2 separate regions of the Homo sapiens genome follow, and region 1 is linked to region 2. The links come from fine-mapping of genetic effects on gene expression. A gene starts in region 2. The other region holds a variant in brackets. All regions are shown on one strand. Distances are between the middles of the regions.

Region 1 (8,337 bases), 310 kb after region 2:
CCGGCCCACATGCAAAACTACATCTCTACTAAAAATAAAATTAACTGGTCATGGTGGTGTGCACTTGTAATCCCAACTACTGGGGAGGCTGAGGCAGGAGAATCACTTGAACCCTTGAGGCAGAGAAGCAGTGAGCTGAGATCACACCACTGCACTCCAGCCTGGGCGACAGAGTGAGACTCTGTCTCAATTTAACAAAATAAAAATAAAAAATAAACCTGAAACTTTGTACTCTTTGGCCAACATCATCTTCCTATTTCTTCCATCCCTCTCTTAACTACTTTTGTATGTTGTTAGAAAATGCTTAACATCATCTGTCACTTCCTCTTTCCCCACTCTCCCCGCCAAAAAAAAATTCACCTATCCACCTGTCTCAGTAGATCAGTTTATGCCTGGTTTTCTCTCTCCATCCCCTATTTTAAGAGGTGCATCCCTAAGGATAACCCACTCAAAGGTAATGACAGCTTAATCATATTGCCATCTTAACTTCTAGGTTAGCAACCAAAGAGTTGTAAATCTCCATAGGAAGGCAAGTCTTACGAATTAACAGAAGTGGGGAATAGCAGTCTGGTATATAATAGATGAATTATAGTTAAAGGTTTTTTGCATATTTAGAAGTTCATCTGATTATACCTTATAGAAATAGAGTAAGGGAATCTATTCCTCAGAAATTTCAAACACTAAAGTGTAACTTTTTGAAATTTTGTAATGAGAATTTGGAAACATGGACAAAAGTAGAAAGGGATAATAAGCTGTCACATACCTGTTCCTCAACTTCAATAAATAATAATAATCTTTCTTTCTTGTTTCATCTATCCCCTATTCCTTTTTTTTCCATAATGGAAGAATTTTAAAGGAAACCTAAATAGATCATGCATCCATAAACACCCAGTATATATTTCTAACATAAGAAAACTTCAAAAACATATGCAACCACAATTTCATTCACTCCCAGTAATATTAGAAGTGACTTCTCATCTTTATAACTTTTTTTTTTTTTTTTACCCCCAGAGTGGGTGTCACTCTGTCATCCAGGCTGTTGAATGCAGTGGTGCACAGTCATAGCTCACTGCAACCTCAAAATCCTGGGCTTGAGCAATCCTGCCTCAGCCTCCTCCCTCAGCCTCCCGAGTAGCTGGGACCACAGGCACATACCAACACACTCAGCTAATTTTTTTTCTTTTTTTATAGAGACAGAGTCTCTTTGTTGCCCAGCTGGTCTCAAACTCCAGGCTTCAAGCTATCCTCCTGCCTCTGCCTCCCAGAGTGCTGAGATTACAGGCATGAGCCATTACACCTGGCCAGAAGTGATTTATTCTTGTCATCTAATACCCATCCTATGTTCAGTTTTCTCCATCTCAAAAAAAAATTTTCAGTTGATTGGTTTAAATGAGTGGTTCAAACAAGTTCCACATTTTGCATTCATCTGTTTGTTAAGTCTTCCTTAATCTATAAAAGTTACTTTTTTTTTCTCCATGCCATTTTTTGTCATTTGTGCTGTAGGATTTCCCACATGCTTTCTTTGACTAATTGCATTTTCCTGGTGGTGTTTAACATGTTCCTCTGTTTCCTTCTCTTCTCATGGCTGTTCGATAGATCCAGAGTTTCTCAAGTGCTAATTAGATCATAATTTGTTTTTAAACAGAAAGAAAATTAATCATGCTCATATCACATATTATTAATAGGTGGCCGGGTGACATGGCTCACGCCTATAATACCAGCACTTTAGGAGGCTGAGGCGGCCAGATCACCTGAGGTCAGGAGTTCAAGACCAGCCTGGCCAACATAGTGAAACCCCATTTCTACTAAAAATACAAAAATCAGCCAGGGATTGTGGTGCGTGCCTGTAATCCCAGCTACTCGGGAGGAGAATCACTTGAACCTGGGAGGCAGAGGTTTCAGTGAGCCGAGATCGTGCCACTGCACTCCAGCCTGGGCAACGGAGCAAGATCTGTCTCAAAAAAAAAAAAAAAAAAGGGGGGGGGGAATATATATATATATATAATTAATAAGAACTAAAGATTCTATGTCACATTTATGAGGGCTAAGAGAATGATATTTTATTATGATAAAGGACCACAGATTGTCATGCACATTGTGTACTATAATGTAAATGGCATTCCATGGAGTTGTGTAATGAGGTAACCCTTATTATGATTTTAGAGTTTGACTTTTATGACAATTAGAGAAACTTTTCTGGTAAGAACTTAAAAGAATTAAAACATTGACTAGAAATAAAATTCTTATGTGACTGTTATCCCATGTAACAAATATTTGTTGAATGTTAAAGTCATGCTGTATTTTTTTTTAACAGTGGTTTTTAGATCGTATGGCTGATGACGACTGGTGGCCAATGCAGATACTAATTAAGTGCCCTAATCAAATTGTGAGACAGGTAAGGAAAAATATGTTTGAAAAAAATTATTTGGAAAAGAAGTTACTTTCAATTTAATTATTCTCAATTTGCTTATAAGTGTGTCTTAACCTAATATTGATAATAGTTTGAAAAGATCTGCCTCCTATCATAAAAGTCATTTTGTTGTTGGTTTCACCAGGTTCTTTTAACATCAGCTCTCACTCTAATAAGGTGATTAAAATTATGCACATTTCCTGGATATAGGAAGATTGACTGTAATTTCCTGTTCTTTTATTATTAGATCCTGCTCTTTATTATTAGATGCTTTATGAGTTATACTGATTCTTTTAAAATCCTTACACATTCTAACCATGGTAGGGTACTATAGTGACCTCAAAAGCTAATGAAAAGGCTGTAACTTATTTCTGTGATTGGGTCTGAACTGTCAAACGAAACAGTTTGTTTTCTTTAAATTGTTGGGTAAAATAGACAATGAAATTTAAATATTACTTTATAGTCACTTTTCACAAAATCAAAAACTTAGTTGACGTATGCCACTTTCCAGTTACTATTGAGATATATATGCGTGTGTGTATATATTACATATATATGTTATATATCATATTTATATATTTATAAATTTATATAGAACATACATATATATGTATATATATTTTTTTAGAGGGTTTTGCTCTGTCACAAGCAGTCCTCTTGCCTCAGCAGGTAGGACTACACGCACACACCACCACACCTGGTAATTTTGTTTTGTTTTGTTTTTAGACAGAGTCTTGTTCTGTCACCCTGGCTGTAGTGCGGTGGTACTTCATGGCTCACTGCAGCTTCCACCTCCTGGGCTCAAGCAATTCTCCCACCTCAGCCTCCTGAGTAGCTGGAACTACAAGCACACACCACCACACCTGGCTAATTTTTGTATTTTTTTGTAGAGAGAGTGTCTCTCCCCTGTTGCCTAGGCTGGTCTCAAATTCCTGGGATCAGGCAGTCCTCCCAACTTAGCCTCCCAGAGTTCTGGGATTATAGTTGTGAGCCACTGAGCCTGGCCTAAGTTACAATTCTTATACCATAAAATTTACCCAGACCTTTCAAAATGTAAAATTTAGTGGTTTTTAGTATAGTCACAAAGTTGTGCAGCCATCACTACTACCTAATTTTGGAACATTTGCCACCCCCACCCCCCACCAAAAAAAAACCCTATACCCATTAGCAATCAGTTCCTATTTCATCCTGTCCTCTCTCCTCAATACCTGACAACTACTAGTCTACTTTCTATCTTTATAGATTTGCCTATTTTGACCATTTCATATAAATGGACTCATACACTATTAGTCTTTTGTGACTTACTGCTTCGATTTAACAATCTTTTCAGGATTTATTCATGTCACAGCATGTATCCATATTACATTTTCTTTTTTTGCCAAATAGTTTGTCAAATGTATATAGTCCACATTTTGTGTTACCTGTTCATCAGCTGAATATTTGAGATGTTTCTACTTTTTGGCTGTTTTTAGTAATGCTGTTAGGAACTTTTAGTACAAGTTTTTGTTTGGATATACTTTGTCACTTCTTTGTGTATGTTTTTAGAACTGGTAAACTGTTTTTTGTTTTTGTGTTTTGTTTTTTTTTTTTTTGAGACGGAGTTTCGCTCTTGTGGCCCAGGCTAGAGTGCAGTGCCGTGGTCTTGGCTCACTGCAACTTCCGCCTCCAGGGTTCAAGTGATTCTCCTGCCTCAGCTTTCCAAGTAGCTGGGATTACAGGCGCGCACCACCGTGCCCAGCTAATTTTTTGTATTTTTAGTAGAGACGGGATTTCACCATTTTGGCCAGGCTGGTCTCAAACTCCTCACCTCAGGTGATTTGCCCGCCTTGGCCTCCCAGTGTGCTGTTACTACAGCCACTGCACCAGCGGTAAACTGGTGTTTTTTGTTTGGTTGGTTGGTTGGTGTTGTTTTTGAGTTGGAGTCTCACTCTGTCAACCAGGCTGGAGTGCAATGGCGTGATCACGTCTCACTGCAACCGCCACCTCCCGGCTTCACACAGTTCTCCCTGCCTCAGCTTCCTTAGCTGAGATTACAGGTGCCCACCACCACGCCCGGCTAATTTTTGTATTTTTAGTAGAAGTGGGGTTTTGCCATGTTGGCTAGGCTG[G/A]TCTCGAACTCCTGACCTCAGGTGATCCACCACAGCCTCCCAAAGTGCTGGGATTATAGGCTTGAGCCACTGCACCCAGCTGGTAAACTGTTTTTTTATAGTGACTGCAGTGTTTGACATTCTTGCCAGTGATATATAAGTGTTCTAATTTCACCATAATCTTCAGCAGCTGATACTGTCTTTTATTTTAGCCATCCTAGAAGGTATGAAGTGGTATCTTATTGTGGTTTTGGTATGCATTTTTCTCAAAATGGTTACACATTTTTTTCATGTGATTGTGGGTCACTTGTGTATCTTTAAAGAATCCTCACATTTCCTTCTCCTAGCTGCTGACCCCATGATGAGCAGCGGCCCTTCCCCATTCCACTCTTCTTAAGGAATTGGATACTAGATTTTCTTTTCTCTGTATCTCCACTAGCTAAAAGGATTTTTTGAAGCTTTGTTTTTGATCATCTGTATTACTGAAATGTACAGTTTGTTGAGTTTTTTCTCTTTATCATAAAACTGAATTTTTTTAATGCTACCTTTGCCTCATTTCCTTAGTCCATTGTTGAGACTCCAGAAGAGCTCCAGAATACCAAGATAATCTTGTGCAAACTATAAATGGGTGGCAGAGAATTTTGAATCATGTTAATTTTTCAAATCTTTGTTACCTGATGAGTTGGCTCTTGTTTGATCTTTTTCTTTCTTCACAGATGTTTCAGCGTTTGTGTATCCATGTGATTCAGAGGCTGAGACCTGTGCATGCTCATCTCTATTTGCAGCCAGGAATGGAAGATGGGTAAGAAGTACTTTTTGAATAAGTTTGTGTGTCTGTGTTGTGTGTGTGTGGTGTTTTTGTTTTTTTTTTTTGTTTTTTTTTTTTTTTTTTAAGAGATAGGGTTTCTTCATGTTGCCCAGGCTGGTCTCAAACTCGTAAGTTCAAATGATCCGCCCGCCTCGGCCTCCCAAATTGCTAGGATTACAGGCATGAACCACCATGCTTAGCCCTAATTTTTAAGTTTCTTAACAACCTGCCTACAAAATATTTTTTAAAATCCACACTGAAATATTTGTTCTGTTTAAAAAATAATCTGTAATAATACATTCAAGAAGGTAAAACTGTTTTTGTTTTATTTAAATTTTGCATCTGCAAAATCCTCTACAAATTACTTTATGGCTTAGTCTTTTTGTTTGCATTGATTTAGCCAGTCACAATAACTACTTAAGTTATTGCGGTTCATATTCATTATCTCAAAGATAAAAGAAATTCAGAGTTTAAAAAGTACTTTTTCTCTCGAACAGTATTTCCAGACCTCATACATTCTCTAAGATCTATTTAATTGTCTCTTAGGTCAGATGATATGGATACCTCAGTAGAAGATATTGGTGGTCGTTCATGTGTCACTCGCTTTGTGAGAACCCTGTTATTAATTATGGAACATGGTGTAAAACCTCACAGTAAACATCTTACAGAGTATTTTGCCTTCCTTTACGAATTTGCAAAAATGGGTGAAGAAGAGGTGAGGCTATATCTTGTCTATTTTTTTGATTATCTACCTTTTTTCAGTATTTGCAACTTAATTGCTTTTATTTTATATTTTTAAATTTTGTTTGTTTGTTTGTTTAGAGCCAATTTTTGCTTTCATTGCAAGCTATATCTACAATGGTACATTTTTACATGGGAACAAAAGGACCTGAAAATGTAAGTACAGTTCTATCGTACATTAGGTATTAGAGGCTCTGGTTTTCATAGTTTGCATCGTGCGAAGTCCTGAGATGTTAGAACCCTTTAAAGTCCCTTCTGGAACCTGGTGTTAGATAATATGAAGGGTCTAAGATTGGTTGATGTTTTTAATGTAATTTTAATGGATATAGCAAGAAAGAAACAACTAGGTAATGAAGTTCATTCATTGGTAAGGTCTGGAACAAAGCAAATAAACTTAGGCAAAGTGGTCACCTACTTTAGGGTCTTATCAATAGTGAATTGTTTTTGTGAACATTTTGCTGGTCACATTTTTAAGTTCTTTGCTATTAAGTTTATGAGAGTCTTTCCAAAATTTAAGTAGGTGGTCTATGAATAATATTAAAGTATTACATCAGTTTTGTGTTGTTCATAACAAATGCATTAGGTTGTATGATCTACTTGCACTCTTTTTCAGTCCTTTTCTTAACCATAAGAGATAAGTACCCTTTATATCTCCATTTAACAGATGAGACAATTGAAACTTAGAGAAGTTAATTTGTTTTAGATCACAGTGACTTGTTGTGCTTTGATCCTCGGTCAGACTACTGAGCTAAAACTCTTAAACACTGTTTTGTAATGCTTCACAGAATATACACTAGTAGATCATAAAATCTTTTGAGTCTGCATTTAGAAGCCCAAGTGAATATCTCTTTGAAATACCCACTATTTGGATTATCAGGGAACTATAAATAAGAATTTCTTATTTTGTATAACTGGCATTTTTATTAAATAGGAAATACTATTTTATCATACTTGCAATTTTTATCGTGACTTGTCTTCCAATGAGCTTGCTTATAAGAAAAAAGTTATTCAAGGGTTTATAGGTAAGGTAAGTAGTCAGTGTTGAGGTTTTTTGTTTTTTTTTTGTTTGTTTGTTTGTTTGTTTGTTTTTGAGACAGAGTCTCACTCTGTCTCCCAGGCTGGAGTGCAGTGGTGCTATCTCAGCTCACTGTAACCCCCACCTCCCAGGTTCAGGCGATTTTCCTGCCTCAGCCTCCCGAGTAGCAGGGATTACAAGCGCGTGCCACCACGCCTGGCTAATTTTTGTATTTTTAGTAGAAACGGAGTTTCACCATGTCGGCCAGGCTGTTCTCGAACTCCTGACCTCAAATGATCCACCCGCCTCAGCCTTCCAAAATGCTGGGATTACGTGAGCCACCATGCCCGGCAGAGAATTGTTATTCTTTACAGTTCTGGCAGTTTAATCTAAGATTGTCCTGAATGTGGTTTAGAGTGTTTTACATTAGGTTTAGGTCTTTGTGCAGTTGTTTTTCATGTTACAAGCTCCTGCCACCATCTACACTGTTACATAAAACAAGTCATTTGTTCTCAAAATGATATTAAAACTACTACCGTATTAAAATTGAATTTTATTCCAACTTAGCCTCAAGTTGAAGTGTTATCAGAGGAAGAAGGGGAAGAAGAAGAGGAGGAAGAAGATATCCTCTCTCTGGCAGAAGAAAAATACAGGCCAGCTGCCCTTGAAAAGATGATAGCTTTAGTTGCTCTTTTGGTTGAACAGTCTCGATCAGAAAGGTGAAATGTTTCGAATTTAAAATGTTTAAAGCATGTTTGGTTTTATTATTTTTACATAATTGTTTACCACTAGTTTTTCCACTAGCTTTTTATTATATATGTTTAATTATGTAATTGTTATTCACTAGCTTTTATTATATAAATCCTTTTAAATAATACTACTATTCATCAACTCTTGTGGCATAAGAATTTCAGTTTTTTCTACCAAACTTTTACTTCATCTATGAGTCGTGTTAGAAATAGTCATTGAAAAAATATACAGTAAAATATCTAGCAAAATAGAGCGTGCATTCGTTCTTTAACCTAGCAACTTCATTTCTAGGAATCTGTGTCCAAAATACAGAAAGATGTATATGCAAATCTGTTTATTGAAACCATGCTTCTGATAGCAAAAGACTAGAATCAGCTGAATGTCCATCAAAAGGGAACTAGTTGAAAAAACAGCATCCATTCAAAAGAATATAGCTGAAAAAGGAAGTATGGAATTTATCTGTACTACCACAGAGAAATCTTTAGGATCTATTACTAAGTAAAAAAAGGTGGGAAAAAGTGTATAT
Region 2 (8,337 bases):
CTGATTCTGACATTAGCTGACAGTGTTGTTTTGATAGCCAACACTTAATTGCTAAATGTCTTGTTGGGGAAGTGCCCTCAGTTTGAGAACTACTGAAATAGATTCACTGACTTTGCTAGGTTCTTCATTTTTTTCTAGTCAGAGCACCTGATAAAATAGGTTTTTTGGTTTTTTTTCTGATTTTTCTTTTTTTTTAAATTTTCGTTTATTTTTCACATTTTTCCATGACTCCATATATAATTTTTCTTTTTTTTAAAGACAGTCTTGCTCTGCTGCCCAGGCTGGAGTGCAGTGGCTTGATCACAGCTCATTGTAGCCTGAATCCTGGGCTCACGGGATCCTCCTGCCTAAGCCTCTTGAGTAGCTAAGACACAGATATGTGTCATCATGCCTGGGTTAATTTTTTTAGTTTTGTAGAGCCAAACTCTCATTTATGTTGCCCAGGCTGGTCTTGAACTCCTGGCCTCAAGTGATTCTCCCACAGTAGTCTCCCAAAGCACTGGTATTCCAGGCGTGCACTACCACGTCTGGCTAATTTTTTGTATTTTTGTAGAGATGGGATTTCGCCATGTTGGCCAGGCTGGTCTCAAACTCCTGACCTCAAGTAATCTGCCCGCCTCAGCCTCCCAAAGTGCTAGGATTACAGGCATGAGCCACCTCGCCCAGCTCATTTTATTTTTATTTATTTATTTATTTTGAGATGGAGTCTCACTCTGTCACCAGGCTGGAGTGCAGTGGCATGATCTCGGCTCACTGCATCCTCTGACTCCCTGGTTCAAGCGATTCTCCTGCCTCAGCGTCCCGAGTAGCTGGGATTACAGGCATGTACCATCACGCCCAGCTAATTTTTGTATTTTTAGTAGAGATGGGGTTTCACCATGTTGGCCCAGATGGTCTCGATCTCCTGACCTTGTGATCCACCTGCTTTGACCTCCCAAAGGCTGGGATTACAGGCATCAGCCACCACCATGCCTGGCCCATAATGAGATGTTTTTGTGCAAGAAAGAAATGGCATATCTTTTCAATCCACAGATACCAACTTTAGTTTCCCTACTCTATTTTGCTTCTTATATATTGCAACGGACAGAATATTTGTGTCCCCTGAAAATCAGTATGTTGAAATCCTAAACCCTAATGTGATGGTATGAGGAGATAAGGCCTTTGGGAGTCAGTAGATAACGAGGGTAGGGTCCTCATGAATGAAATTAGCGTTCTTATAAAAGACACCCCAGAAAGCTCTCTAGCCTTTTTTCCCCCTTCACAAGAGAGTACAGGAAGAAGTCACCGGTCTGCAACCCGAAGAGGGCCTTTGCCAGAACCTAAACCATGCTGACGCCCTGGCCTCAGACTTCCAGCCTCCAGTACTGTGAGAAATAAATGTTGTTTAAGCCACCCAGACTATGGTACTTTGTTACAGCAGCCTAAACTGACTGTTACAGCAGACCTATAACCCTATCTCATTATTTTTATTTTTGGCCTAGAAGTACTTCAACCAAAACAGCTATAGCTTCCTCTGTCCTGTCTGAGAATGGTCCAAGTTAAGTGATACACTTCTCTCATTTCTCCATGAGTAAGAGATTCTTGGGACCCATTGTTCAATGTCACCTCATAGAAGAACTGTACAGATTTCTCAGACTATCAAACTGTAACTCCTAGATTTAGCAGCCTTGTCACCTACTTTTTCACTATGTTCTCAAAAGGTAGCAACTCACCTGCAGGCAACTGCTGATTCTGCTCCTGATTGATTTGAGGCTTCACAGACTCTACGTAGATTATTCACTGGGGTCTTAACATCACAGACAGAATACTCATAATTTTCCATAAATATTCTCCACACTAAATTGAGCTTGATGGAAATAGGGGTGCAACCCATACTTTATCTTCCCAGGTCAATTTTTTCTTGAAATGAGTATCCTGACTGGGCAAGGTGGCTCAGGCCTATAATCCCAGCACTTTGGGAGGCTGAGGCAGGAGGATCACTCGCCTACAGGAGTTTGAGATCAGCCTGGGTAACATGGCAAAACCCCTTTCTACAAAAAAAAAAAAAAAATATATATATATATATATATATATACACACACACATATATTTACATTTATATGTATATATTTACATATATATGTATTACATATATGTATATATTTATAATGTATAATATATATTATATATATATATATTTATTTACAAAAAACTAGCTAGGCATGGTGGCATGCATCTACAGTTCCAGCTGCTCAGATGGCTGAGTCAGGGAGGATCCTTTCAGCCTGGGAGAGACACAGTGAGATACTTTTTCCAAAAAAAAAAAAAAAAAAAGATCCTTTCTCTCTCACCCTGTTTTAGCATCATACACAATCACACTTTTGTCAGAGTTAGATTGGTAATTTTTTTTGAGACAGTGTCTCACTCTGTCACCCAGGCTGGAGTGTACAGTCTGCATGATGGCATCATCACAGCTCATGCAGCCTCAACCTCTCAGGCTCAAGTGATCCTTTCACCTCAGCCTCCCGAGTAGTTGGGACTACAGGCGCATGCCACCATGCCCAGCTAATTATTGTATTTTTGGTAGAGACCAGGTTTTGCCATGTTGCCCAGGCTGGTCTTGAACTTCTGGGCTCAAGTGATCCTCCCACCTTTGCCTCCCAAAATGCTGGGATTACAGGCCTATGGTAAAATTGATTTTGTTATATGTCCTTGTAGGTTTTTTTTATTGTTGTTTGTTTGTTTTGAGAACGAGTCCCGTTCTGTTGCCCAGGCTGGACTGCAGTAGCGTGATCTCCGCTCACTGCAGCCTCTGCCTCCCGGGTTCCAGCCATTCTCCCCGCTTAGCCTCCCGAGTAGCTGGGATTACAAGTGCCCACCACCACGCCAGGTTAATTTTTGTATCTTCAGTAGAGAGGGGTTTCACCATGTGGCCAGGCTGGTCTCGAACTCCTGACCTCAAGTGATCTGCCTGCCTCGGCCTCCCAAAGTGCTGGGATTAAAGGCATGAACCACCATGCCTGGCCTATCCTTGTGTTTAAAGTCGCAGTTTCCAAGATCCTCTCCATGACCATGTTAAGTGAGGATTTACTGTATTTGCATATACTGTATTTGTAAACTTCCCGTTACTTTCATCTCTAGATTGCTTATAATACCTTATACGATGTAAACTTTAAATCATCTCTACATTGCTTATAATGCCTTATACAATGTAAATGCTATGTAAATATACTGCATTGCGTTTTATTTTGTATTATTTTTATTGTTGTTGTTGTTTTTTAATGTTTTCCACCCAGGGCTGGTTGAAACTGAGGATGGGGAACCCAGGATACAGAGGGCCCACTGCACATCATATATCATACATAGTACATTATATATGTATTATATATGTATATAAAATGGCTTGATATTATTCATTTATGTAATGAATAAAAACTTAGGTCTGAAAATCATCCAAAATAATTCTGGTACATCTAAACATTGAGTTGTTGCGTTTTTCTTTATTGGAGGGGGAGTTAGAATAAGTGGTGCTTTGAGGTTAGCCATAGTCCATCGTGGATGAACATTTGCTAAAGAAAATTGTTATTAATTCAATAAATCATTTATCTACCTCTTGGTGGCACAAAGGGCCTAGTAAATTTTGGTGGGCTATTTGCTCTTAAGCAAAGAACAATCTGTAAAGCTGATTTGGAGGACGCTTGGGAACAAACGAGAGGCAACCACGTGAAAGGCAACGTGCATGTGACTTTCACAGAAAATACTATTTGATGATGATTTAGTACGTGAAGTGCAGCTAGGGTAAAAGGAAAATCTGAGTGTTGCAGATCAAGGGCACCAGGTGGGACGCAGTTGGCATGCAAGCTCAGCCAGCCAAAACATGCGCTGTCAAACCAATCACTTGGGATTACAATGTTTTGGTTTTCAGGAAAGGTTGCTTGTTGAAGCAGCCAAATTCCAGCCTGGAGAGACAGAGTTGAAATTTTAAGGAGACTTTCCCAAGAAGTATTTCGATATCTTTTCCGACACCCTGAGAAGATCACGAGGCGCCAAGAATGCACGCCCTGCGCCTCACCCCAACCCCTCTCTCAGCTACCTGGCCCCAAAACCAGGCCTCTAAAATGGATTAGAGAGGTCTGGGGCCTAAAATTGGCCTCGGAAGCGTTCTTTTTCCCTCTTTTCTCCACCCCTTCCAGAGTTCAAAACTGGGTGTGCCCTCCCTTTTCCGAACGCAGCCCCCATCCGAAGGGCGGATCCTGATTCCCGCGGGCTCAGGCCCCCGCAGGTTGGCGGGAGCCGGTGGGGGCGGGCCGGCCGAGTCCGGGGGAAGCAAAGAGAACGCTGCCGCGCGCCCCGATCAAACTCGCGCCGCCACCAGCTCACGAGCTGCGCCCCACCCTCTCCGTCACCGAAGAGGCCCAGCCAATGAGCGGGCGAGAAAGGCCGGGCCTGCGAACTAGGCACCGGGAGGGAGAGGGCCGCAGGGGGAAGGGAAGTCGAGAGCTCGAGGGCGGGCTGCTCTTGATTGACAGCTCGTTCGAACGAATCCTCCACGCGGCTTTCCTTCGCTCTCTTTTCTACTCATCCCTGCTCTTCGTCCCACCTCCTCCTCCTCCACCCCTCTCCTCTTGCCTTTCGACCCTCCCCACTTCCCCTCCCCCACTCTGCGGGCAAATCGCTGCTGAAAAGAGGTAGGGGCCGAAGCGGCGGGCTCGTGTGGAGCCGTGAGGCGGGATTGACTGGCGCTCGGGCCAATGAGAGATAGGCTCATGGCGCGGCTGTAGCTGGAACTGACCAATAGGAGGGCGGGCTGGGGGCGGAGGCCCAGGTTCCAAACGCTCCGCGGCGCCATGGGCTGAAAACTCAACCGAGATGGAATCTCCCAGTCTGAACCGGTTTCAACCGGTTCCGAGTTTGAGGCACTAGGAGGAGGGGGAGAAGCGGCTGCAGCGGCCGCGGCAGGAGCAGCGGGAGCTACAGCATCAGCAAGAGCAACAGTAGCTACAGCCCCGGCGGCGGTGCCTGTTCCAGTCTTTGCTGCTGCAGTCCGTGCAACCACCCAGAGGGGGAGGGGGGAACCACCAGTCGCTGAGGAACAAGAGAAGGGGGGAAAGTTTAGGCGAGCCTTGGGGGGGGGGGGGCCAGCGCCGGAGCCGCGTGAGAGAGGGAGCCGTGTTTTGGTAGGGGGGAGTCGGACTGCAACTGGCAGCAGAGCGTCTCCCCGGCCGTGTGGACTCTACACCCCCTACTCCTGCCGCTTCTGCTGCTGCCTGTGGCTGGAGGGTCCCCCTGGGGCTGAATCTTTGGGACTTGACCCCGTTCCCTCCCCCTTCCCTCACTCCCCAGCCGGGCGGGAGCATTTATTCCCCAGATTAATTCCCCTTTTGGGGGGGGGCGGGTGTGTGTGTGTGTGTGTGTGTGTGTGTGTGTTGGGGGAAGCGTCCCTGAAATAGTAAATATTATTGAGCTCTTTTTGCCCTTTTCCTGTCCGTTTTTTTAATTTCCTTTTTTGAGGTGGGAAAACTGAAACCCACCTTGATTCGTCCCCTCTCCCCCCTCCCCACCTTCCCTCGCCCTAATCCCCCAACGAGGAAGGAAGGAGCAGTTGGTTCAATCTCTGGGTAAGTCGACTGTGTCTTCGGGGCCGAGGGTCGGGCGGCGGCGCGGCCGGGCGGGCGGGAGGAGGCCGGCGTGGGGCGCGGCGGCGGCGGCCGCGGGAAGCGAGCCCGGGAGGCGGCGGGCGGGCCGGGGGCGCGGCGGGCCCACAGCGGAGCCTGCGATTGAATGGAGCCGCTTTTGCCGCTGGGGGATGGAGGCGGGGAGGCGGCCTCGGGAGGGGAGCGCTTGCTGGGTCATTCGCGTGTGCGGGTGGCGGTGGAGGAAGGCGAGGAGTGTGATAGTGAAGCGGGGCCCCGCGCGGGGTGGGAGGGGTTCCCCAGCCCCTGGGGCTGGGGAGAAGTTGGGGTGATTTCAGGAACATCTCTGTAAATTATTAGGAGTGGAAGTTTCCAGAAATATTTAGTGCAGCAGCATTGAAACGTCCGCCTGCATCACGTGGCCCCCTCGGTGGAGAGCTTGGGATGGGGGAGGGAGGGGCTGCCGACTCCCTGTTCCTCCAGCAAGGAAACTCGAAAGCTCTCCGGTTTTGCAGAGTGGCATGTGAAGTAGGAAAGATCAGTTTTTCAGGGGCCTGCACATGGGATTCCGTCTTGTAGTTCCTTTTCAGGGGTTTGAATGTGATAAGTTGGTTAAACCATTTACTGTTGGCCTTGTACAGTGGAGGATGCCCTGATTCTCCTTCATTCCGATGTCTGTGAGTTTGGGTTGGGTGGGAGGAAGTGGTGTAGTAGAGGAAGCATTCAGTACTGGCTCAGCCCGGACCTCCTCTGATCACGCCGAGGCCATGCTGCATAGAGAAAGGGGCGGTGAACTTAAGGCGCCTGGTCTAAATGCCTCCTCCGAGTAAGGGCGGGGTGAGTGCGTGCTCCTGTGTGCTATAGTTAGAAGGGCTGCAAATCGGTTCGGGTGGGAAGCGAGGGGAGGGCGGGCCCTAATGAGGTGTGTTTTTCCTGAATGAAGCGGGCGATTGCCCACACAACCTAAGGAGCAGTCTTTCGCCTTGTAGCGACTTGTTTTTCACCTAGTGTGAAGTTATTAAGCAACGGTTATGATTTTCTGGGTTTTGTTTAGGAATTGGCATTGGGTGTCACTTGTAGAGTCACATTATCCATTAAGCTGGATAATCCCTAGTGTATGTTATCCAGTGAGTGGATTTTAGGATTGAAGAGCCCAATGGGAATGAGCGTTCGTGGTTACACCTCTCGCACTATGGCTTGTTTGCTGTCTGATTGTATATCTTAAGTGTGGGACACTGCTGTTAGTGGAAAGAATGTTTTGGAAGCGGTTTGATTTGGGGGACTAAATGTGCTTGGCATTGACCACAAAGCCGCCATTTCTGTACTATGTACAGTTCAGGAATAGGTAGGTGATTTCGAAGATAGCCGCTAGTTCTAAGGATGGCAAACTACTGTATTTAAATCCTTCTATTCTAAATCTCGTTTTTCACATCAGTCTAGTTCGGAGAATTTTATAAGAACAGTGTATTTGAAAATGAAACTTGTAAGAGTCATTTTCTTAATCCTTTTTTGTTTTAGCATTCAACTATGGTAGTAAATAGGTGAAAAGTTTGTTCAATATTTAACCGAAATATTTGAAAACTTTTGATACATGGATCTTGGTGCTTTGTGGACATTGCTTTTAAGCCTCAAATAATTAAGATTGTTCTGATCTTTTAAATTTTATGGTACTTGAAGGTGGAGGAGAGTTTACACATTCATTTGTGGAATATATATTTCCTCTCAGTATTTAGATCTTAAGGTTTTTTTGTGGTGTGTAACAAGTATTCTGCTGTTTAAAAACGTTTGTTTAATGCCTACTACGAAACGTTTTGAAGTCTCATCAGTTTTGTCAATAATGGACCAATTCTTGAACTCCTAATTTCTTGAGTTTTACATTATTTTTACATCATATCAATCATAGGTGACTCATCTTTTGGAGTTCTAATCTGTTGTAACAGACGTTATATTTAAATAAGACAATTGCATTAAAATAGAATTTGCTGCCATTATTGTTATGGACATTTTTAAGCTGTTATAAAATAGCCAGGAATTAATGACTTTTTTTCCGCCCTGCCAAGCTAGTTTGTCTAAATATAATGTAAAGAAATTAGCTACTCATTTTCTGGTCCACGAAAGTTCCTAAAATGGGAAGAAGTGGAGATCTGACCTTGTTAGTTCTAAATACACTAAACTGGGAGTGCCATGGATGGCTTTCAGGATGTCCTGAATCCTCTATAATTGTATACAAAATCGTGAGTTTTTAAAAACTGGGTTAGAGCTATTGGTTCCTCAGAGTCTCAGGCATCTTAGACCCCCAAAAAGGTTAAGGACTACTGACTTAACCAATTAGGTTTGAGTGGCATTGGCTTTGAAGAAAAGCAGAGGAAAGATATATTTTATAATTCTGGGCAACAAAAAAGTGGATGTGTGCCAGCATCTTAGAGTAGAATCCTCTTAAAAGGATAGCACTGCATATGAACTAGTAGGTTTTAACCAGTGCATATTTAGGCGAAGTAGCTCATTTTTCTGTTAGAATTCTTTTTTATTTGGGAATGGGCAAGCTTTTACAGCTTTTACCTTGCCAATGAATACCTGGAATTTAAAAAATCTTGTTAGGCATATTGCCCATAAAGTTTTTTTTCCTAGATCATATATTCAGTAAATATGTTTGTAGCTTTATTTCAATCCCCCAATTCATTGAGGGTTGAAACAATTTGAATGGTTTGAGTGTAGAAGCTAAGTT

The links.
Region 1: its variant is fine-mapped to the expression of XPO1 in whole blood (TOPMed, PIP 0.90).

What each region holds. Positions count from the first base shown.
Region 1 is chr2:61,226,510-61,234,846 of GRCh38, reverse strand. It overlaps USP34 (ubiquitin specific peptidase 34), which reads left to right. Exons shown (of 80, transcript NM_014709.4): 58 at 2,315-2,395; 59 at 5,214-5,299; 60 at 5,852-6,020; 61 at 6,128-6,202; 62 at 7,629-7,780. Among named protein-coding and RNA genes, the nearest start is that of C2orf74-AS1, 52 kb to the right of the region's middle. The variant G/A (reference allele first, on the strand shown) is at 4,519.
Region 2 is chr2:61,534,822-61,543,158 of GRCh38, reverse strand. XPO1 (exportin 1) reads left to right here and starts at 4,803. Exons shown (of 25, transcript NM_003400.4): 1 at 4,803-5,597. RefSeq lists enhancers at 3,461-4,250, 4,819-5,078, 6,173-6,232, 6,953-7,012 and a silencer at 4,189-4,328.